Homo sapiens: one gene and its partners. The protein of the gene in region 3 interacts with the protein of the main gene of each other region in a biochemical or structural test. Each region holds a gene or a part of one and is shown on either strand. Other genes may lie near its edges.

Region 1 (8,592 bases), on a different chromosome or scaffold from region 3:
ACCTGGGACTGCGGTTTAAAGCAAATGCTTGATGGTTAGACTAATCTGGATGGTCCAACTAACCTGACTCTACCACTGACTGGTTATAAGACCTGGACAAGGGGCTCTACCCCTTGAGCCTCAGTTTCCTCATCTGAAAAACTGGAATAATAATAATATCTAATTTATAAAGGCTTTTGGAGGTTAAATGAAGCAGTAATGCCTCTTACATATAAATAAAATTCTGAGTATGATATACAGCACATAAATTCTAAATAATAAAGACTCAAAACCATATTTCATTGGTTTTGTTGATGCTGATTATTATTATTATAATTAATACTATTAGCTTAATTCAAAAGCTAACATCAACCTACAGCAACCTGCAGAAAGATGTCCTGCCAAATACTTGCTAATTTAATCCAGGAGCAAAAATCTATGATTCTGGGCTTGAGTGAGCTTTCCTAATTTTAAAACTCTGATGCTCATTTTGTCCCCAAGAATGTGTTTAGATGACAGAGCAATCAGAATTTGACATGTATAAATGCTTGGCATGTTAAAATAATGAAAGATATTTTCACCATTGTAAGGAAACAGCTTTTAATCCATCTCTCTGGTTCAACATCACATTTTTCTATAGTTTCTCATGACTTCTTCCTTAACAATTGGAATAGGTATGAAAAAGCTGAGCTGAACACATAGCTGCTTAGAAATGAGCTGCTTAAAGTGTTAAAACAACAGAAACAGCAAGCATGAGTTTAATGCTATGTATGCCGTCACAATACTAATTTCTCTATTTTAAATTACAGATTACACACACACATACACACACACACGGAATCACGTCTATATTGCTGGGATTTTCATTATATAACAATATATCATTTTAAATGATTTGAGGCAAATTATTGAAAAAAATTAAAGACTGAACTCCATAAAAAGGAAATCACCTGAAATCAAATATAACCTTGTTAACAAACCAGCACATTAGCAACATTTTTAGGGGCAACAACATAATCAGCAACTCTAAGACATCAATCAAATGCATTAAAAACAGGAAGTACTAACTCTAATTCCTAATTTCCAGAAAGGCAAATATACCATAATTAAATAACACGTTATAAGGAGATTTGTCTGTGTAGGTCTACTTCTGAATCCCCGAAGTTACATACTTGTACCACAAGCCCATACTCTTGAAAGAAAATTCTGGACCCAGTCCACATGGAATTTTGGTTAAAACATCTAATTCATTGCAGAGAAGAATTTAGTCTTTTCCACGGAAGAGACAGCATGTGTTAGAATGAGAATACTTTATAGAAATGACCAGTGACAAGCCGGCTATGTAAGGGGGCTTCTGATGCCTGGCGTTAACAAGAGACAGAGAGTATTATTGTTGAAAGGGATCTTTGAGATTACAGAAGGAGCTGAGGTGTGAATAATCGAACACCATCCCCTTGTTGCCTGAAGGAGAAGTGAGACAGCAAAACAAATCAAATTTCCAGGAGCTGCACCGTGTATGGTGAGCGAAGACGCAATGAGGACATGTCTGTAGGAGAACAGAGGTAGAAGTTAGCTCCTCAAGTAACAGTTGCCATCCCGAGGCACCACAGCACAAGACAGTAGCGGAAATGAACATGACAACGCGGATGGTGGGTGACAAGAGTCTTGCCTGGATATTGACATTTTTAAAGTGTAGAAGAAAATCGCAGGTCACTGAAACAAAGGCTGATGGTGCCCAGCAGGTTACTCTTGAAATCAGAAACAGAAGTTCATGAGAGGCAAGAAGACAGAAACAACAACTGAAAAACTTAGAGTGGATCGCTAACTTGCAGGAGCTGTGCAGCTTTGGCTTTGCAGGTTTTAGAAGCTCTCCCTACGCCACGTCTTTAAATATATGTATGTTCAATCAGCAGGAGGAAGGGACTAACAAGAGCCTTCTGCGGTAAGCACCTGCATCAAACAATGGCACTGATCTCAGAGGGATTTTAAACAGCTGTGCATAAACTTCAAAAGTAATTTGCAACCATATTAGTAAATGTCACTCTTCTTCCCGCTAGACACAGCACTTTTAAAAGAGATTAAGCATCCGCAGTAAGCCTGCCATTTTACAAGGGTTACCAAAGATAAGTTAGGGAAAATATGAAGATGATGATTCACAAGGTCGGGGTGTGGGGTGGGGTGGGGGACCCAGGACCTTAGGAATAGGGCTTGTCTATCACACAGCCTCGGGCAAGAAGGGCCCAGTGGGGACCATGGCTTCTAGGGAGCAAACCAAGGGAAAAGAGCAACGGAGTGGACCCTCCAGGCTTCTTGCCTCTCTCACGGAGCCTCACGAATCCCAGTGGTTTAGAATTTTCTTTGGCAAAAGAAAAGGTCAAAGAGGCCGGAGTTGACAGAAAGCATGGGCGGACTTCTCAGATCTTGTAGGTGGTTCTTAAAAGAATTCAGCAGGCTTGAGGTGTGCTCTCAAAGGGCAACTGGAACGTCAAGGACTTGGACACCAGGCACAGATGGTTCATTTCCCATGGACAGGAAGAGGGCACGGAGTGCTCCCTCTTCCCTCCACCTTCTCCAGCCTAGTCCCCCTCAGCCTGTGCCACTCCTGAATCATCTTTTATAGCACCACGTCCAGCCCGCACAGGGGCAGGACAGCCCAGGGAACAAGGCAGTCCTGTGGCGCTCTCCTTGCAGAAATGACCGGAGTCTCCCAATCCAGCCAGCCCGTGGACCTCTCTTCATGCCCACGGGGGAGTGCACACGCCTGTAGCATTCAACAGTCACTCTCCCATTGATAACGGTGGCTCTCGAAAATCCAATACCACAAAGATACTTTATTGCACAAACTTTGCTTGGTTAACCTGGCCCTCAAAGCTGGGGAATAACCTCACTTGAGGCTACAGGAATGAGCACGCAGATTTTTCTTTTTTTTTTTTTTTTGGTATCTTTCAAAGACCTGCCTCCCCCTCCCCCAGGCCCTTGACCAGAAACTTGGCTTGTTTAGAAGCCTGAGCAATGGCACCCCCGTCCGTGCTCCAATACATTCCCAGAAAAGGGGTTATGCTCCCCTGTGGACAGGATACCATCTCCAGAAAACATGTTTCCTCACGCATTTTTTTTTTTTTTTTTTACCAAGAATACAAAAACTTTCCACCTTCTTCCCTCCCCGCAGGCCCCCTTTCGTTCAGGTGAGAAGGAAAAGGGAGAAGAAAGGAGGAAGCGCCCCCAGGCCGGCGGCCCCCACCCGGCTAAGGTCGCCAGCATCCCGCATCCCGTGCGACCTGCGTCCCAGAAACCCAGCGGGGAAATTCTTCCCGGTGCGCTCTTGCGCCCGCTTGGTTCCATTTCCTACTCCGCCTGCTCACCCGGCAGCCCTCACCCCTTCCCGGAGGCTCTCCGAGGGGCCCGGGTAGCCCTTCTCGCCACGGGTCTCGGCCCCTCCAGCCCGCTCCCTCCCGGCGGCGGCGCGGGGCGCGGGGCCCTACCTGGAGCGAGCACGGCGCCGCTGCTGCCCGGTGGCGCTGGGACTGCGCGGGGACTGCGCGGGGACTGCGCGGGGACTGGCGGGGCTGGCGGGGCTGGCGGGGCTGGCGGGGCTGGCGGGCCCGGCGCACTGCGGGTGCGCCTAGAAGGCGGTGCCCGCCAGGGGGCGCTCGCCAGCCTCCCCGCCAGCCCGGCCTCCCGGGACCCGGCACCTCTAGCCAGGGACGCGCGCTCGGTCCCCCGCCGTGCGCCCCCGGTCCCGCGCCCAGGCTCCCGCCCCTGGCCTCCTTACCAGCCACTTGTCGCCCAGCTGCGAACTGGAGCGGGAGGCGGCGGCCGGAGGGCCCAGGACAGCCCCGGGAGGGCGGCGAGGCGGAGCAGGAGCGCCCCGGCTCCGGCCACATTCTCAGAGTCAGGAAAAGGGGCGAGAGGCCACATGTCTCCCTCTCGCCCAACTGAAAACGAAACGGCGCTCCAGCAGATTGGGTGGAAAGAGCTGGGTCTCTTTTCTCTGTTTTTCACGCTAGAAAGGGCTTGTAAACATTGTTCCTTTTAAAATGACCTACCCCAGGCATTTGTTTGGGCACACTTCTGTCCTGGGGTCATCGTTCCTAGGTGGCTTCGGACCTGGGACTTTTCCTGTATCTGCACATTGTCGTTTTATACACAATTGCCAAGGTGGGACTGCTTTCAACTTTACTGTGCTTGAAGCTGCAAAGGTAATGTTGCCGCCGTGCGTGTCATTTTAGGACTTTTTATGCCTTGCGGGTAATACTAATGATGGTCACAGGGAGGATAAACGGGGTGGTTTCTTTTTCTATACTCCATGTAACTAATTTCTCATTCAGGTTAGAAAATTATATGTCTGGTTACTAATATTCTTACTGAATGGTTTCCTTGCAATGATGACACCAAATAATTAAAACGTACTTGATTAAGACTTTTGTTGCTGTAGTGTACTAAGATCAGATTAATCTGAGAAGTAAAATAGTAATTTTTTGTCCTTTTTTCTTTTCTTGTTTTGAGAGAGACATTAAAAACGATTAAAACAAAACAAAACAGGCCAGGTGCGGTGGCTCATGCCTGTAATGCCAGCACTTTGGGAGGCTGAGGCGGGTGGATCGCTTGAGGCTGGGAGTTTGAGACCAGCCTGGCCAACATGGCAAAATCGTGTCTCTCCTAAAAATACAAAAATTAGCTGGGTGTTGTGGCACGTGCCAGTAATCCCAGCTACTCAGAAGGCTGAGGCAGGAGAATCGTTTGAACCTGGGAGGAGGAGGTTGCAGTGAGCTGAGATCTCACCACTGCACTGCAGTCTGGGTGACAGCAAAACTCTGCCTCAAAAAAAAAAAAGGTTTAACAAAAGCCAAAAGTTGAATTAGCAGCCTTCTGATCATGGGAATGTAGGATGTCAACTAAAAAGAACCTCAGAGGTTGGGAAGGCAGATGAAAAACTGAGGCCCCGAAGTGTTTCAAGACTTGATTAAATCACTCAGGTCTGCACTAGGAAGCGAGTTATGATGATGCCCCTAATCTATATGAACCCAAATAAAGCCAAAACACACACACCTTTTAAGGATAAAACTATATTCCATTAAAATTAGCCCCGCATTTGTCAATATCTAACAGCATTGGACTGACCCTCAGGCCAGAGGCTGTAGCTCTTGGAAGATCCTAGCCAGGAGGTTTGAGAGTGGCCAGTACCTCGGAAGTGCTGGCTCACTCTGACATCATCAGAACCTGGCATACAGTAGGCGCTCATTGGGTATTTGCTATGGAAATTAGGCAGGAAAGTGCGTCTGTGTCTGGAAACAAAGAGGCAAAGCTTAAGCAGTGATCCCCATGCAGATTCTTTCTGCAAACTACAAAACAGAAGCTTCCCTAGTTCAGACTGCCATCCATCTGGCTCTTTCTCCAATTGTTTTTCAGCGGATCCTGTTACAGTGCAAAGAAGAAATGGCAAACGGATAACAGCTACTGTGCCTAGAAGATGGTAGATTCCTCACGCTCCATATCTGGGTTTCTCATTGACAATTAGGCACTGAAAGGAAGCTCATATGTCCTGTTAATTTAATCAGTAGTTAGTGGCTTTAGAAAAAGTTTCATATATACACCAGGTATGATAAGGACTTTTTTTTTTCTTTTTGAGACAGAGTCTTGCTGTGTTGCCCAGGATGGAGTGCAGCGGCGTGATCATAGCTCACTGCAGTTTTGATCCCCCAGGACTCAAGTTATCCTCTCACCTCAGCCTCCCAAATAGCTGGGACTACAGGCACACATCACCATGACCAAGCTAATATTTAAAAAGATTTTTTTGTAGAGACGGGGTCTCACTATGTTGCCCAGGCTGGTTTAAAACTCCTGGGCTCAAGTGATGCTCCTACCTCAGCTTCCCAAAATGCTGGGATTATCGGGGTGAGCCACCATGCCCAGCCTGTGATGACTTTAGACGCACTACTCATATAATATTCATAATCTGATGTGATATGTATCATCATCATTATCATCTCTCTTTAACAGAAGAGACTAACAAGGCTTAGAAAGGTTATGTACCTCGCTCAAGATCCCACAATTACTAAAGTACCAGAACCAAGATTCAAACCCAGGTCAGGCTGGAGCCACCATCTCAAGAGCTGCTGAATAATTAATTCTCCTTTTTTTTTTTTTTTTTTGAGATGGAGTCTTGTTCTGTCACCCAGGCTGGAGTGCAGTGGCACAATCTTGGCTCACTGCAACCTCTGCCTTCTGGATTCAAGTGATTCTTCCTGCCTCAGCCTCCTGAGTAGCTGGGATTACAGGCATGTGCCTGCCACCATGCTCAGTTAATTTTTGTATTGTTAGTAGAGACGGGTTTCACCATGTTGGCCAGGGTGGTCTCGAACTCCTGACATCAGGTGATCCGCCCACCTCAGCCTCCGAAAGTGCTGGGATTACAGGCATAAGCCACTGCGCCCAGCCAATTCTCCATTCTTACATCGTACACTCAGTTTTCTCTTTCTTTCTCTTTTGGACAACTGATCTTTGAGGACTCTTGGCTACTCAATTGTCCTATAATCGTATAGTCCTACAACAGGAAACCCGTTAACCTGAAGATCAGATCTTTTAAAACAACATCCATCATATATCTACAAAATTGGGATTTTTTTATCGTAAAATTTCATCTAAAACAAAAAATTCACATCTGTTCTTGGTATCCATTAGGTGTAGTGGACACCTCTAGATATTCTTGATGCCAGCATCCTGTAGACCCGCCATCTCCTTTCCCAGGCCATGGGGTGTTTCTGTTTTCTATTAGACACTGTCTCTTAGTTATATAAACGTGGCTGCTCTCAGAAGTTCTCCACACCTTTGTTTCCTGGAAGAGGAAATGGCATTTCCTGGAGGGGATGACACGTGGGCGGTGAGGTTCCACTCACTACGTTAAACACACCCTAACTTTCAGCTGTGTACTTCTTTTCCTCTTTCAGGTTCTGCCCTGATGTTTCCTGGAATAATGCTGAGGACTGCCTTTCGGGTAGCCGCCCTATTCAGTTCACTTCATCTCGGAAATACCTGACCCCTGCCTTGGATCCAGCGGCCCTCCTGAGAGCTGAGGAAGGAGGAAATCCTATGTGTCTGCTCCCGGAGCTGCCACAACCCATCTTCCCACAACTCGGAACTTGGAAAAAGGAACCCAGGACACGACTTTGCTTTTCTTTTGGACCTAGTTGGTGATTATACTCTGTCTCCCATGGAGACCACGTCTTGCATCCTTCCTTCTATATGGGATTTAGGATAGAAATTAAAAAGAAAACATATTATTTTGAGTCTTGATTTGGAGAAAGGTAGTATTCAGGAGGAAGTAGGCTATGATACACATAGAAAATTTGAGGACAGTGTTACTTAACAAGGACATTTCTGTCTCTGCAGAAGTCACAGCTTGGAGGAAACCAGTTTGCACTATTTGATGAGGAATTTGGCCACCAAACCACTGATACTTTCCCAAAGGTTTGGCAGAAATTGTTTTTTGAGTGGCTCACCAGAGTACCCAGAAGAATCAGTATGGAATTAGAGGACAGTGGCCTACCCTAAATAAAGACATGAGTGATGTATAAAGTCTAGTGTCAATTTATTCAGAAAATATCAAAATTATTCTGGGAGCTATGGGTCAAAGTTGATAGGCACAAACAAACAAAAACGAAAGGTATTTTAAATTCACAGCTTGGATAAGTAAAAGGGAGATGTTGTCATTTCTCTTCTTCAATCCAACTTTAGATTTTCAAGCCGGAAAAAGGGTAATTAGAAGTTAGAAATTGTTATTGCCAGAAAATAGCTCTAAACCCTGAAAAAAAAAAAAAAAAAAAAAAAAACTGACCCTCCTCTTGGGGAGTGATAAACCTCAATTACTGTTGATAGTAAAACTGATATCAACTCTTCGAAACCAGTGAAAGGTGAATGGAAACCTTACCCTAGGTTAAGGTTTAAAAAATGTTCATAATATATATTTGAAAGTTCCATTATTTAAAATATTCATTAGACATGCTTTGTAATGTTAAGTTACTTCAAAAAATCTTACACAAGGGAAGGGAAGTATGTATTATTCCTTCATTTAAGAGAAAGATAATGTGTGAATATTAGTTAATATTTATCGTACATTTACTACCTGTGTCGAAGCGTAGTGTTACACACTTAATTTCAATTATTTAATTTGATTCTAACAATGAATCCCCTGAGATGGATAATATCCTCTTCATTTTACAGATGAGACAATTGAGACTTAAAGGTTAAACAAATGATTTCCTAAGCTCATTCAGCTAATAAACGGTAGGGGACTGCTTGACACCAGTCCAGTTGACCCTCAAATCCATGATTTCTGCCACCATATTCACAGAAACAAGACAAGAGCTGAAAATATAGCCTGACTCTTGAAACAGTCAAAGAATTGTGTATGTTTATGAAAGTTCTGATTAATAAGATATTCTGAGGACAAAAGACAAGGCATGGGTAGAGGGGCAATGTGTAGATTAGAATGTATCACAATGCCCACTAAATAGTAAAACCATAGAAAATGAAATTTAATCCTTACTGTGTAGAATATTTAGAGTAGATTGTTTTTTCCTCGGTGTCAATTACTATTACAACTATCAAAGAATG
Region 2 (7,686 bases), on a different chromosome or scaffold from region 3:
CTGTCATCCCATTGCTTTGGGAGGCCAGGGCGGGAAGATTGCTTGAGGCAGGAGACCAGCCTGGGCAACATAGAGAAACCCATCTCTACAAAAAAAGTGATAAATAAAAATGCCCACTTATATATATAGAGGGTGAACTTGCAGATTCTCATAAGTAACTTACAGTTGTGTACATAATGAAGAATTGACTTGCTTTATTAGTGATCCCAAAAAAGGAGCCCGTTTGTTTTATCTTACAAATTTTTCATAATTTTTTTCTTTATTTAAATTTTTTTTCTATAACACACAACTTTGTCCAGAACCCTGTTTGTTAATATTTTAGAATCGCTTAAAGATGTAGTGACAGGTTGGAGTTTACAGAGTAGGTATCATTGAAGCATCACTCAGTTTTTTAACACTTATTTTTCAGTAATGAAATTGGCAGTTACTGAGTTATCAGACAGCTCTTGTTTGAGATGAGCTAAAAGATCTACAGTTGATATTACTGGTCATATATTGCAATTTTGTGTTTCAGAGAATATTCTAAAAAACCTAATCACTGTAGACAGGATGCACTGGGATATAGATAGTTACTAACTGGACCAACTTTTCTCACACACAAATTAGCACTTTTTCTAAGAATACTGTTTATTACCCCAAAATTTTACTGTACATACTCCAATCATTGCCTTGCAGAAGAGCATCTAAGACCTGTCATTGCTTCGTACTGAGCACAAATTATTTTTCAACTTAAAAATAAGAGTCCTGGTTAATAGAGATAGGTTGACAGAATGTCAGTTGTTATAATTGACTAACTACAGTATAGTTTACAGTAGTGTGAGTCTAGGGTTTGCTCTTCAAGACCCAGTAGATCTGTTGATAATTAGATCAATTTGATGTGATATTTGATTCCTTTTAAAAATATTTGTAGCATTAACTATTGTATGCGTTCTATAAGATGAGATACCTTCCTTTAGACTTAATTTTGTGGACATTTAAATCCATACCCTATTCCTTTACCAACTTACCTGTCTATTTTAGTAACTAACTTCCTGAACATAGTCTACATTAACTAATTTCCTGAACATAGTCTACAGTGCTTTCTATTATGCATGGCCCTAAACTCACTTCTGTTTGGGATTCAATCCTTGGACTGCTTTTAAACATAATAGAATCACAAAATTCATTTAAGGGTTATTCTGTTTTTCTGTAAACAACTATGGCCTTCCTATGTGATCTCATTTGTCAACTTTTTTTTTTTTTTTTTTTTGGTAGTGATGGGGTCTCACTATGCTTGCCCAGCTTGGTCTGGAACTCCTAGCCTCAAGTGATTCCCCTGCCTGCCTCAGCCTCCCAAAGTGCAGGGATTACAGGTGTGAACCATGGCATCCCACCTGCAATGTAAATTATTTGTGCCAAAAGATAGATAAGGCCGGGCGTGGTGCCTCACGCTTACAATCCCAGCACTTTGGGAGGCTGAGGCGGGCAGATCACTTTAAGTCAGGAGTTCGAGACCTGCCTGGCTAACATGGTGAAACCCTGTCTCTGCTAAAAATACAAAAATTAGCCAGGTGCTCACTTGGACCCAGGAGGCAGAGGTTGCAGTGAGCCAAGATCGTGCCACTGCACTGCAGCCTGGGCAAGAGAGCGAGACTTGTCTCAAAAAAAAAAAAAAAGATAGATAAGTGAAACAGTAGGAATTTTAGCCCTTTACTTCTTCACTTAAAGAAATCATACTGTACTCTGTCTTTCCACCAAAGAATAGTGTAAAACCAGAAGGTATTTTAGTTAGTCATGTGTTGAATAGTGGCCGGAAAGATTTTATTTCCTAGCCAGTTTTTGCCTTTTTAGGAAAAAAGTTGACATCAGTTTCTGTGGTTGAGACTTTTTCAGATGCTGCCATTTCAGACTTGTTTCATTTAGTTTGGATTTTATTCCTTTTTTCCCCTCCCACAGTTTATGCTGTGGGTTTGTTAGGGAAACCAACAGTTTAGTGAAATAATTATGCATGTTTTTGTGTCAGTCCATTAGAACTTGAGAGCAGCATATATTATAAGGACTATTTCAAAATGTTTTCTACACACGAAAGCTTATTTTAGAATGTGTTCCAATTAAATCTAGGCTTGATCAGGTCACATGATGTGCTTAATATGTACATTCTTTACAAAGAATATCTGATTTTGAGGGTGAACTGAAGATGAGAAAGTAAATGCCATACCTATCTCTGCCACTGTGTATTGAGAGTGATTTTGAAGCTATTTTGGGATACGCTTTTGGAGGCCTTTCTGTAGCTTTTTATAGTAGATACAGAGCTGCTACTACTTTGTGTAACTGGTGAGTGGTGGATTGGGACTCTTGGGCCCTGGCTTTCTTTTTTTTCCAGTCACCCAATTTATGGCTTTCTAAAAACATGAAGACCTGGGGTAAAATTAAAGGATGGAGGTGAGGAGAGCCCAGAATTCAAGGAATTTTACCATCCAGTTATTTTCTCATTTTTCTACTCCTGCTATTCATCCCTAATATCTTAACTTTTTTCCTAAAAAATGAAGACCAGCCTCTTTTGTTCTGGTCACATGTTAAAGGACTTCCCAAGGTCAGAGGCTTCATTATTGCCTCTTGAGCTTTTTAATACTCTAAAAATGTTTTAGTTTGAACCTAAAGAACATGTCAGTTTCTCACTTGCTCTTACATCGCCATGATCAAAACAAAAAACTAGTCTTAAAATACCAGAGACATTACCTAAAATGGCCATGGGTTTAATTAACACATTTTGGGGAAGCATTTGATTTGTATTTACATCTTATGACTATTTCAGTATATTACTGTGCTGAGAGAGAAGTTATTTGTTGTTGTTGTTTTTAACGTATGCCCTGTAGCTTGTGGAATGAAACAGTTTATGATGTATTTTTTTTTAGGTGAAGGCAGTGTAAATAAAATGTTCTCATTTATTGTTTTTCATACCTAAAAGCTTATTTAAATATGAACATTTTTCTGGTTAAAAATAAATATAAGTAGAAGTTAGACTATTTTTCCCCATACCTGAGTGGCTCCTTTTGTTTTCCTTCCATAATGTGCACATCCTGCCTTGAAAATAACCCTGCCTTAATGATGTTAACGATGAAATTCTGATCGTTTATTTCCCTCTTTTCATAACATCAAATAGATTCAGAATTCAGTAAATATTAATTGAATATCTATTGTGCCAGGCAGTGTTCCAAATGCTGAGGATATAGCAGTCCATAAAATAGACTCAAATCCATCCTCTCATGGAGCTTAAATTCTGAACAAAATAAGTAGAAATGAGATTTGTTAGTAGTGCTGTGGAGATAAAGCCAGGGAGTGGGGATAGGGAGTGTGCAGGGTAGGGTTGAATGGGGTTTGCAATTTCAGTTATGATGGCTTCACTGAGAAAACATGAAGATCTTAGGAGCTGAGGGAGCAAGCCATATGGATATCTTGGGGAGGAAGAGGAAGTACAAAGCCCTTGAGGTGAGCGGATGCCTGGCACGTTGAAGAACTACAAGGAAGCTAATTTTTGTCTGGAACAGAGAAGGTTAGGGGATGGAGAGAGAACAGCTGAAGATAAGTCAGAGAGGTAGGTGGAGTGAGGGCATCATATAGAGCGTCTTTTGGGGGCCCATTACAAGGACTATGACTTTTTTTTTTTTTTTTTTTTTTTGAGACGGAGCTTCGCTCTTTTGCCTAGGCTGGAGAGCAATGGCATGATCGGGGCTCACCGCAACCTCCACCTCCGGGGTTCAAGCGATTCTCCTGCCTCAGCCTCCCAAGTAGCTGGGATTACAGGCATGCGCCACCATGCCTAGCTAATTTTATATTTTTAGTAGAGGTGGGATTTCTCCATGTTGATCAGGCTGGTCTCGAACTCCTGACCTGAGCCGATCCACCCGCCTCGGCCTCCCAAAATGCTGGGATTACAGGTGTGAGCCACCATGCCCAGACTTTTTTTGAGATGGAGTCTCGCCCTGTCACCCAGGCTGGAGTGCAATGGCACGATCTCAGCTCACTGCAACCTCCGCCTCCTGGCTTCAAATGATTCTCCTGCCTCAGCCTCCCGAGTAGCTGGGATTACAGGCACGTGCCACCATGCCCGGCTGATTTTGTATTTTTAGTAGAGATGGGATTTCTCCATGTTGATCAGGCTGGTCTCGAACTCCTGACCTGAGGTGATCCACCCGCCTCGGCCTCCCAAAGTGCTGGGATTACAGGCGTGAGCCACCGCACCCGGCTCAGGACTATGACTTTTAAAGGGTCTGTGGATAATAGACCTGCGAGGGAGGTAGTGAGGTCAGAAGCAGGAAGAACAGGTTAGGAGGCTGTTGTAGTATGCCAGGTCAGAGCTGATGGTTGCTTGGATCAGAGGTGTAGCAGTGGAATGGTGAGAAACAGTCCAATCATGAGTAGAATTTGAAGTATAAAAAAAACCAATTTGCCAATCAGGCTAGATGTGTGTGGCATATGAAGGAAAAGGTGGATCATTTGGAAAGATGGGTTTGCCAGTAACTGATGTGGGGAAGACTTTATGGGAGGAGCAAAGGTTGGGGATAGGGAGGTCATGTTAAGTTTGGGATGCTTATTAGACATTCAAGAGTGTATATCAAGCAGGTAGTTATAGAGGCAAGAGGCACGATGAGGGGAGAGGTCTGGGCTAGATATGAATTAGGGGAGGCTTCAGCTTATAGAGTGTGTTTAGTATTTAAATTCATTGCATTACATGAGATCACTGTGGAAATGTATAAACAGAGAGGAAGCCCTAGAATAGAGCCCCAGTGCATTTCAGTGTTGCGATGTTGGGAGATAGAAGAAACCAACAAGGAAACTAAAGGAAGCTGCTGCCAGACAAGGAGGAAGAGAGCCATGAGAATGTTTATAGGAAGTTAGATAAAGCTTTGCAAAGAGGAAGGAGACCAGCTGGATAAGATGTCGCATTTAGGTAAGATAAAGATTAAGCACTGGACATTTGATTTAACCTTGTGGAAATCATTGGTGACCTTAACAAACAAGTTAGCGATAACTACAGCTTGATTGGAGGGTATGTTCAAGACAGAAGAGGAGGAGAGAAATTGGAGACAAGCAAAGTAGAGGTTCCTCTTCAAAGACTTTCCTCCCCATCTAATTAGGAATAAATAGTAACTTCTCTTAGAAGCAAAATTTATTCGAAGACCTGTGCAAACATTCTTAAATATTTGCTAGCCATAATAAAGAAATCAATATACTTTATGTTCTTAGCTCCCACAATTTAGCCTAAATATTTGCCCTGGCATGCTTATACTGGTCCAAGCAAGCATTAGGTCATAGCCTGTTCCTCTTCCTTATTTAAAAGTGTTTTTACCTTTCTCAGCATTCCACAAGTTACTTCCTCCTTCCTTTGTTCCCCTCTACCTTTACCTCTTTTAAAAAGTTCTAAGTTGCTAGCCAGTCAGGACAAATACAGAATGTGAGATCCCGTTCCAGCCAGTGGAAACCGGACACAGCAGTAGGGTGGACGCGTCAGGTTATAAATGACCCTGTCTCCTTTGTTCAGTATACTCTTGTGGCAAAACTCCTGGCGAGTGTACCCTTTCTGCAGGAAGTAAAAATGGCTTTACTAAATAAATTAAATTTATGTTCAAGTGCTATTTCTTTATGGTACCGAAGAACAAACATTTCAGAGATCAGTAAGATCTAGTGCTCAAGACCGATTGGCCCTAGCCAAGAGTACGTGACATTTCATCTATACAGGAGAAAAACCAGAGTGTATGGGTGCAGATGCAGGGAAATGTCCAAATGCTACAGTGGGAACTGATGGAAGTATCTAACTTGTCATGAAATAGGAAGCAGGACATCAGCCACAAGTGAGGATGGGGATGGAGATGCTGGAGGTTTGAAGAGAGAAGAGAAATAATAATAATACAATTATTTAGGGGAGAGGGAGAATGATGAAAAAGAGAACTAATGGTATGATTGTTGGGAGTATTAAGGGTTCCTCTGAAGTTAATTGTCAATTTTAGAGTAATCAGCATTGTTAAATATATTTCTTTAGTCCTGTTCAGGTACCTGGGCCTCTTCTTATCTCCTTTCTTTAGTCCGTTACATTTTTCAGAGGGGAGGTTTTCAGTGGGTTTAAAAACTAATTTTTGGCCGAGTGTGTTGGCCCATACCTGTAATCTCAGCACTTTGGGAAGCCAAGGCGAGCAAATCACTTGAGGCCAGGAGTTCAAGACCAGCCTGGCCAACAGGGTGATACCGTCTCTACTAAAAATACAAAAATTAGCTAGGTGTGGTGGCGCACACCTGTAATCCCAGCTACTCAGGAGGCCGAGTTGGGAGGATCACCTGGGCCCAGGGAGGTCGAGGCTGCAGTGAGCCAAGATCTTGCCACTGCACTCCAGCGTGAGTGACAAAGTGAGATCTTGTCTCAAAAACAAACAAACAAGCCAAAAAAAACCACCAAAAAAGCTAATTTTACTTTTTAAATAGCTTGGTTTTGGTTGAGTTTAGAGCAAGTTGCCTTACTTATGTAATCCTAATGTTACTTTATTTTACTTGAGTAAAAAATCAGTTTTATTAAGCTAATTTTATTAACATATTTGTAGACATTTGTAGCCAAAATGTATGATAACATCATTAGTATTCGCTTGCAGTTTCATTCAGCTGGTTGTAATTATTTAAATGGTATTTTTTTGAATTTTGCATTTTATAAGCTAAATCTGTTGGGAGATTGGAGCTGTTCTATTATGCGTAGTTCTAAGAGATGAACTTTCTAATTTTACTTTTGGTGTCTAGCAAAATGACATTTGTTTCACAAATGTGTTTGTTTTTCTGTCATAGGAAACCCAGCGTTTGCTGGCAGAACCAGTTCCTGGCATCAAAGCCGAACCAGATGAGAGCAACGCCCGTTATTTTCATGTGGTCATTGCTGGCCCTCAGGATTCCCCCTTTGAGGGAGGGACTTTTAAACTTGAACTATTCCTTCCAGAAGAATACCCAATGGCAGCCCCTAAAGTACGTTTCATGACCAAAATTTATCATCCTAATGTAGACAAGTTGGGAAGAATATGTTTAGATATTTTGAAAGGTAAGTGTTATCTTTATCAGCATATGCTATTATTAAGCTTTCTCCTTTTTCTCTTAAGCATTCCATGTTTAGAATGTAAACATTATACAAAGATCAGAGAGGTCTGTGGGAGGGAAGTGAAGCAGTTCTGGGCCTGTTTTTTTCATGCTTTATCATACTGGGCCTGTTGCCTTCATAGATAAGTGGTCCCCAGCACTGCAGATCCGCACAGTTCTGCTATCGATCCAGGCCTTGTTAAGTGCTCCCAATCCAGATGATCCATTAGCAAATGATGTAGCGGAGCAGTGGAAGACCAACGAAGCCCAAGCCATAGAAACAGGTATCTAATATTCATTCTCCTTCACACCACTTCCACTTTTACAAATTTGTATTACCACTTAAACTTTTCTAAAGCTCTTGGCAAGGAAAAGAAATAGAAAAAAGTATAATAAGTGAGATCCTGCTTATAGTATGTAAATACGTCTTAACAAAATGGCTTGCTATGGGACCCCCCAAATATAAAGACAACCTGTAATTGAAAGATCTTGGAGTCTCTTGTAACTACACCTGGTTTAACAAATACTGAGTGCATACCATTTATCTAGTTATATGTAAAGAATACTGGAAAACTTGAACTGTTTTTGTAACCCATT
Region 3 (7,686 bases):
ATTGCGGTATGTTTGAGAGTCAGGTTGTTAAAGTGAGAATGCGTTGTTTCAGTTGAGATAGTAAGAGAAACTGGGGAAATCATATGGAGTTACTGAGCTTGACTGGATGTTAGGAATCCTAGAATCCGGTGCTTGTTCAGCACTGCTAGCTGTGTGACCTTGGGCAAGTCACTGAACCATCCTGGGCCTTAGTTTCCTTGTCTGTAAAAATGACAGATAAGATCATCTAAGGCCCTTTGAGACTTAAAATTCTTTTCTCAGAAACAAAGCTTTAAAAGATCATAAATTTAGCATAGTAACTACAGTATTAGAACTTCAAATCACATAGATTTTAATGGTATCAATGACAAACAGCTCTTAACTACCAAAAACTTTTCCAGATTAAATTCTTCTAGCAGGAAATTTGAGAGTCATTTGAAGAATAGTTTAATATTTAGCTTAGGGTTTTAAACCGCCAGTCTTAGCCTATGGGTTCCTCAGTTAATCATTAGCAACAGTAATTGTCTCTGTGTCTGGTACTTGGTGTCTTAAAATGCAGATAATTTTTCTTCTCAACCCTCTAGAAGTGAAGCTGGACAAGGTTTCATGCTGTTGCTGCTTAGAAAAGAGCTTTGAACTACAGGAACGCAATGTGGGACTAAAGAGCAAGATCCAGAAGTGGGATGAGTCATGCAACTCAGAGGACAGTAGTGAAGGGGCAGTGAGGAATCGACAGAGGGTCTGGGGGCAATACAAAGCCTAAAATAGCTAAAATAATTATTAGCTAAGGGGCTGTACTTTGGACTTACAGCAAGGCTAGCAACATTACCAAGGGCTTTCTCCAATACAAAGTATTTTATTTTTTATAAAGGGTCAATGTAGTTTCTATATATGGCAGTCATTGAGTAAACTCTCTTCTCAGCTTTAAAACATTCTTCCTTGCCAGCCACAATTACAGGCCATTTTATAATCACTTCCTCCTCCAGCCTCAAAACTGTCCCTGTTCCCTGCTTCCTTTCCCCCTAGATTGACCAACTACATATGGTAGATCATCAAACCCAAGATTTGTCAGGGGGCGGGGGCAGGGGAGGTGGACGGTGAATGAGGAAAGATTATTATTAAGCTACTGCTCATGCCTCAATGAAGCAGTAAAGAATGACATAACCACATGACAAACATACTTAAATTCAAATTCTGGCTTTGCCAGTGTCACTTCAGAATATAATTCTTCTGAGTCTGTTTCCTAATGTACAAAAATGGGGACAGTGATTTCAATCTAGTAGAATTTTTGCAAGGGTAGATTTAGTGAGGTGATGTGTATGGGATAGCATTCAATAGTGCCTGGTACATAGTAAACACCCAAATATTTTTATTTTGTTTTTAACTTGTTTCCATTGGTTTAGTACTTGCTTACCTTTAGGATGTATATGTGTGTGTGTGTGTATGTGTACATGTTATGGAGAAATGGTCATAAGATCTGAACAACAAAAGTATGTTTACTACTTAGCAAACATGTCTGTTGGACAGGTTCTGCTAACATAATGAGAGTGCATTTGTACATTCAGGTAGCTAAGACTTAACAAATCTAAAAATTCCTTACTTCAAAAGTTCAGCTATTTAAAGTGTTTGGTTCACAATTAAAGGAGATTGTGTTTTAAACAATACATACTGTACTTTTTAAAGGTTGTATTAGCACATGCAAACAGTTCACCTTAAAAAAACAGAATGAGTCATAAGGAGTCAGACATGCCATTAATCAGCTCTTAATTATCTTCCATAAAAGAGGGAAGGAAAAAAATAGAGATAACACGAATCTGTGTATAATCCAAAAGGTTCTCTGTGACTTGGAATGAAGCCAGAAAAAGAATCTCATTTTGTTTCACACACTGGCACCTGGTATGGAGATCAACAGTTGCTCAAAGGAATTTTAAATAATTATAATGTGTTAATAGATAATTAATTGGGAATTGATTCTGCAAGGCAAAGTCAAACATTTGTTTTATAATTGTGCAGTTCTTGCAAGAGATCACCTATACTTTTTTTCCCCCATCAGGTATAATGGGTCTCTCCCAAATGGCGATAGAGGAAGGAGGAAAAGTAGGTTTGCTTTGTTTAAAAGACCTAAGGCAAATGGGGTGAAGCCCAGCACTGTGCATATTGCTTGTACTCCTCAGGCTGCAAAGGTAAAAAAAAAAAAAAAAAGCTACATAAATTAACTTGGAGAATTTGAAAGACTTTTATGTGTTGTTTGTATTCTCTAGCATTCCCCTTACATTTCTATTTCAGAAATTGCCTTTTGTTTGGATTGGAGAAGAGACTTTGGAGACATGGTATTTGAAGAGCTGCCATATGGAAGGGGAATTGGACTTTTAAAAAAAAAATGACAAACCAGGATCAGTGGGTGGAAATTAGAAGGAAACACTCTGTTTCCTTATTAAAAGAGGTGGGATGGGGGACAGGGCTTTATCTAGTACTTAGAATTATGCAGCTGTCTGCCCTGAGAAGTGGGAAGTTCCCACTCTGTTACTAGAGGGGTCTCCCTGGACTGGATGAAGAATGTGATGTATAATATGTGTATTCAGGTATTAGAAGCACATTTGGATGAGGTAATTTTTAAACTAAGGGTCTTTACTTAAGATTCTTTGTATTGGTTGTATTCATTTTTGGTTTATAACTTCATATATTTGAGCATAGTACCTTGCACAAAGTAGACCTCAATAATTATTAAGTTGAATCAAAGCTATGAAGGCAATATCCAACTGCATCTACAATATAACTTCTCAACCCCCTAGCCTATTTCATGCTTCTAGCCCCCTTGTATTCTTCTAACAAAATTTCCAGAAGCTGGACCACCATTTCAGGATACTTGGGCTTTTCCTAGAGTGACAGACAAGGAGGGGGAATTTCACATCTTTATATTTTCTGTGAATTCATCTGCCTCCAATTTTATAACACTGACTTTGTGTTACAAAGAATTTAATATTGTAATGAGCAAATAAGAAAAATTAGAAAGAGTTCTTTGACTCCTGGAAGTACCTGTATCTTTAGCTAAGTAGCCCTAGGATGTACATTAATATTATACCATCTGAAGCATATCTTTGTAAATTAAATAAACAAGAGACAGAAAAATTGGCATATGATGTGGTTTTAGGTTGCAGCTTCAGTGTCTGAAGGTAATTGGCTTTTCAGCTTTGTTTTATATCCAGTTTGATTTGTGAAAGAATCCTTAGGCCTTGACTAGGACTCCTCTGTTACTATTTGGGAGCCAGTTGGTGCAGAAAAGGGACAGTTTCTTTTTGCTCCTTTGGCGAGAAGGAATATACTAAGCAGGTGGTGGAAGTAAACCTCAGATTGATTGAATCTGAGGAGCTTCTTACAGTAGCTCCCCCCGGAGTGCTCTTGACATTTTGGGTATGCCACTTTTTCATTGTTCAGTACTTTCCCACATACTACAGGACATTTATAGGTCCTTCACCCACAAAATGCCATTTGAGCCTGCAAATCCTCGTAACAGCCAAAAAATGCACAGCATATTTTCAGATGCCCCTTAGACTGCTAATACTACCTCTGGTTGAAAACCACTATCAGGGAAAATATTTCTAATCCCTGCCTCTGTAATACCATATTCTGTACTTTTCTTCCTATTTTACTCTGCCATGCCCTCATGTTTTCATTGTTATCTCTTTTTCATCTTTCATCTTTACTAGGCAATAAGAATCTTAGGGATCACAGATTGACTCTTGGCTGGGTGCGGTAGCTCACACCTATAATCCCAGCACTTGAGAGGCCAAGGTGGGCGGATCACTTGAGCTCGGGAGTTCGAGACCAGCCTGGGCAACATGGTGAAACTCCATCTCCACCAAAAATACAAAAAATTAGCCAAGCGTGGTGGCATGCCCCGAAGTCCCAGCTACTTGGCAGGCTGAAGTGGGAGGATCACTTGAGCCCGGGAGGCAGAGGCTGCAGTGAGCTGAGATCATGCCACTGTACTGCAGCCTGAGTGACAGAGTGAGACCCTGTCTCAGTTTAAAAAAAAAAAAAAAAAAAAGATTGACTCCTCCTCTTTAAATTTTGGAGGAATGTATTTGTGAGGTCATGATGAAAATTAAGCATTTAGTCTGGCAGTCATCTGGGATGAGTAGTTAAAACCCTGCGTTCTAGGCCAGTGAGACTCAAACGTAACTTGACATAGTTTTTATTCTCAGTCTTAGAGTAGGTTTAATAACTAACAAACAAAGATTACAATTTCAAAGCACATAAAAACCAATGTTTTAAAATCTCTTTAGCCACTAAGAATTAATTTTCAAAATACTGAGTAATTGTTTCATTGAAAAGTGAGCTGTTTAACGGGGCACAGTGGCACATGCCTGTTAGTCCCAGCTCCTTGGGAGGCAGAGGCAGGAAGATCACTTGAGCACAGGAGTTTAAAGCTGTAGTGTGCCATTTTCCTGCCTGTAAATAGCCACTGCACTTCAGCCTCTGCCACATAGCGAAACCTGGTCTCTTAAACATATATATATGTATATGTGTGTGTGCGTGTGTATATATATATGTATATATATGTTTAAAACTTGTAAAACAATTATATAGTATATATGAATACCTAAATGTGTAGAAAGAAATATGTAAAACATGCATGTAAATGATCTACACTGCATTCTTGAGGTTGGATACCTCTGTAGAGAAAAGGGAACTGGGAGAGACATGTAGGCAGCCTCAATTGTATCTGTAGTTTAATTCCTTAAAAAAATCAGACGCAGGCCAGGCACAATGGCTCACGCCTGTAATCCCAGCACTTTGGGAGGCCGAGGTGGGTGGATCACGAGGTCAGGAGTTCGAGACCAGCCTGGCCAACATGGCAAAACCCCGTCTCTACTAAAAATAAAAAATTAGCCGGGCGTGGTGGCATGCACCTGTAATCCCAGCTACTCAGGAGGCTGAAGCAGGAGAATCACTTGAACCTGGGAGGCGGAGGTTACAGTGAGCCGAGATAGCACCACTGCACTGCAACCTAGGCGACAGAGCGAGACTCTGTCTCCAAAAAAAAAAAAAAAAAAAATCAGAAGCAAAAGTGGCAGTATTAAGCTTTGATAAAGCTGAGTCGTTAGTATAATCTCTTCTATATTTGGAAATAGGGTATTTCTGTATTCTCTTTGTATATTTGGAAATTTGACAGTCTTAAAGCTGTTGTTTTAAGGCTTTATCTATTACAGATTAGTTGCAAATTGAAACCAAGTAAAAGCTTATGATGCCAAACTTCTAATTAAGAAGGATTTTTTCATTTAGCTTCTTTGCTGTATATAATTATTCTCTTCTTTGTGTCTGTTTTATGCAGCCCATTTCTACTTCCTTTGTGTGATGACTAGATTTTTCCCCTCCTTTGATATTATCTTCAACTCATATACATAGAAAACACTTGAAAACAAAACTGAAAAGTTCTTTTTAGCAATGTTTTTAGTTTGAGATAAATCAGAAGTACAGTCATAAGCATTACATCCCTTTCCTTTGGTAATGTTTAATCATTCTATGAATGTTTCTTTTGTTTTTTTTTTTTAAATTTTTTTCTTTTATCTCCTGGGACCAAATCCCAAATGCATTTTTCTGTATCTCACCCAGCATATGGCCAACATTTGTCATCTGTAGAGTCACAAAATGGTTAGAAAACCAGTTAACTTGGCTTATGAGTGAACTTTATAGCTCTCTGAATGACTTCAAAAATAAGATTCCTCTTATTTTGCAAGATTTTCTTATCAGAGCAGTACTATTGTTTTCTGTTTTTATGTGGGATTTGGTTTTGATTATAATTTAAAATACTTAATAAGGGAGTCTAGTGGTTTGATAAAAGAAAATTATGGGCCGGGCGCAGTGGCTCACGCCTATAATCCTAGCACTTTGGGAGGCTGAGGCAGGCGGATTGCCTTAGCTCAGGAGTTCAAGACCAGCCTGGGCAACATGGTGAAATGCCGTCTCTACTAAAAATACAAAAAAAATTAGCCAGGCGTGGCAGCGTGCACCTGTAGTCCCAGCTGCTTGGGAGGCTGAGGTAGGAGAACCACTTGAACCTGGGAGGCGGCGGTTGCAGTGAACCGAGATTGCACCACTGCACTCCAGCCTAGGCAACAGAGCAAGACTCTGTCTTTAAAAAAAAAGAAAGAAAGTTATGTTTTTATTCTGTAACTGCTTCTAAATATTCTTCAGTACCCCATTCAACCCGAGAAACTACTGTCACAGCTGACAGGAGTTATTAACCTCTCTAAATTTCAGGGGGAAAATGTATAAATATGTCATGTATTTGATAAATAGTTTTCCCTTTTTTTAATGAAAAGATTATCTGATTGGATTGACCTGCCTACTAATTTTTGCTATTAACTTTTTCATTCTTAGGCAATAAGCAACAAAGACCAGCATAGCATATCATATACTTTATCTCGGGCCCAGACTGTGGTGGTTGAATATACTCATGACAGCAACACCGATATGTTTCAGGTATTACAACATCTTAAATTTTTTTTCTTAAGAAACGAAAAAGTTAAAAATCTATTGTTGGTGACTTTTGCTGAGGTCAGAGGATTATCAGATTTTTATATTGTATTTTATTAAAATATAGATTGATTGCTAACCCTTATAAATAGAAGTCAATCTAGCATGGTTGAGATGGGCTCCAGAATAAGAATTACTGGTAAATATTACATAACCATTATATGCCTCAGTTTCCTCCTCTGTAAAGTGCAGATAATAGACTCTCCCCTATGACTGTTAAGAGGCTTAAATGATCTAGTACATGTAGAGTACTCAGCACTGTGCCAGGCACTTAGTAAAAACACTTAGTGAATAGTAGCTATTATCCAAAAAAGAAAACAGTAAATACTCTGCATACATTTATGACTTTTTCTACCACTACCTCCCACCTTCCTCTCTAGACAATAAACAATCCAGGCACTTGCTAACTATTTGTATTATCTATGTGAAATCAAACCTTTTTCTCAGCATGTATTTGGTCAATGCTACTCATGCAATAAAAGTATTTTTCTCTTACTTTTTGTACCAATCCAGTGCTGATATTTTATAAACTGATAGATTTTAGGACAGTCAGTTCCAAAGATGTAAATAGAATCCTTGATCTTCTCCCTTAATATTGAGCTCTCTGAAGCTTAGGCTTTTTAAAAACAAACTTAAGTACAACATAAATTGCCTGATAATGTTGCTTTTATAATTATTGTCACATTGACTTCCATTTTTCTTTATTTTACAAGGCAAATAAAAGTGAAAAGACCTGGAAATATATTTAATTTCAGTCAATAGTGAAATATTTCTTTGAAGCCACTCCCTCTGCCCAACCCTTTTAATGAGATGAGATACTGAATTTCTTTTCTCTAGTTAATATTAGAATGTGGGCATTTATTATGTTTTCCTCACTTTTACCAAAAATAAATAAGATCTTTAAGGAAGATTAATGTTTAGATCCAAGAAAAACCGAACACAAAGCTTTAGGATGATTTTTCACATTTTGTTTCACTGACAAGCAGTGAAAATGAATGAGCTTAGCTTTTTTTTAAAATCAAGATGCTACTAGGCCTGTAGTCTCAGTTACTCAGGGGGCTGAGGTGGGAGGATAGCTTGAGGCCAGCCTGGGCAACATAGTGAGACTTCGTCTCTTTAATAAAATATAGATAAATATATATGTGTGTGTGTGTGTGTGTGTGTGTG

Evidence for each region. The genes of interacting proteins can lie anywhere in the genome.
Region 1: the proteins of PELI1 (region 3) and PRKCQ form a complex in vitro, tested with the Homo sapiens proteins (one study listed by BioGRID).
Region 2: the proteins of PELI1 (region 3) and UBE2N form a complex in vitro, tested with the Homo sapiens proteins (2 studies listed by BioGRID).

Annotation. Positions count from the first base shown.
Region 1 is NC_000010.11:6,576,750-6,585,341, forward strand, and holds the start of PRKCQ (protein kinase C theta type), read right to left. Parts: upstream 3,528-8,592; 5' UTR 3,462-3,527; intron 1-3,461. UniProt on the Homo sapiens protein: Calcium-independent, phospholipid- and diacylglycerol (DAG)-dependent serine/threonine-protein kinase that mediates non-redundant functions in T-cell receptor (TCR) signaling, including T-cells activation, proliferation, differentiation and survival, by mediating activation of multiple transcription factors such as NF-kappa-B, JUN, NFATC1 and NFATC2.
Region 2 is NC_000012.12:93,410,421-93,418,106, reverse strand, and holds part of UBE2N (ubiquitin-conjugating enzyme E2 N), read left to right. Parts: intron 1-6,807; coding exon 6,808-7,054; intron 7,055-7,232; coding exon 7,233-7,373; intron 7,374-7,686. UniProt on the Homo sapiens protein: The UBE2V1-UBE2N and UBE2V2-UBE2N heterodimers catalyze the synthesis of non-canonical 'Lys-63'-linked polyubiquitin chains. This type of polyubiquitination does not lead to protein degradation by the proteasome.
Region 3 is NC_000002.12:64,099,177-64,106,862, reverse strand, and holds part of PELI1 (E3 ubiquitin-protein ligase pellino homolog 1), read left to right. Parts: intron 1-2,032; coding exon 2,033-2,162; intron 2,163-2,265; exon of another isoform or gene 2,266-2,306; coding exon of another isoform or gene 2,307-2,309; intron 2,310-6,363; coding exon 6,364-6,465; intron 6,466-7,686. UniProt on the Homo sapiens protein: E3 ubiquitin ligase catalyzing the covalent attachment of ubiquitin moieties onto substrate proteins. Involved in the TLR and IL-1 signaling pathways via interaction with the complex containing IRAK kinases and TRAF6.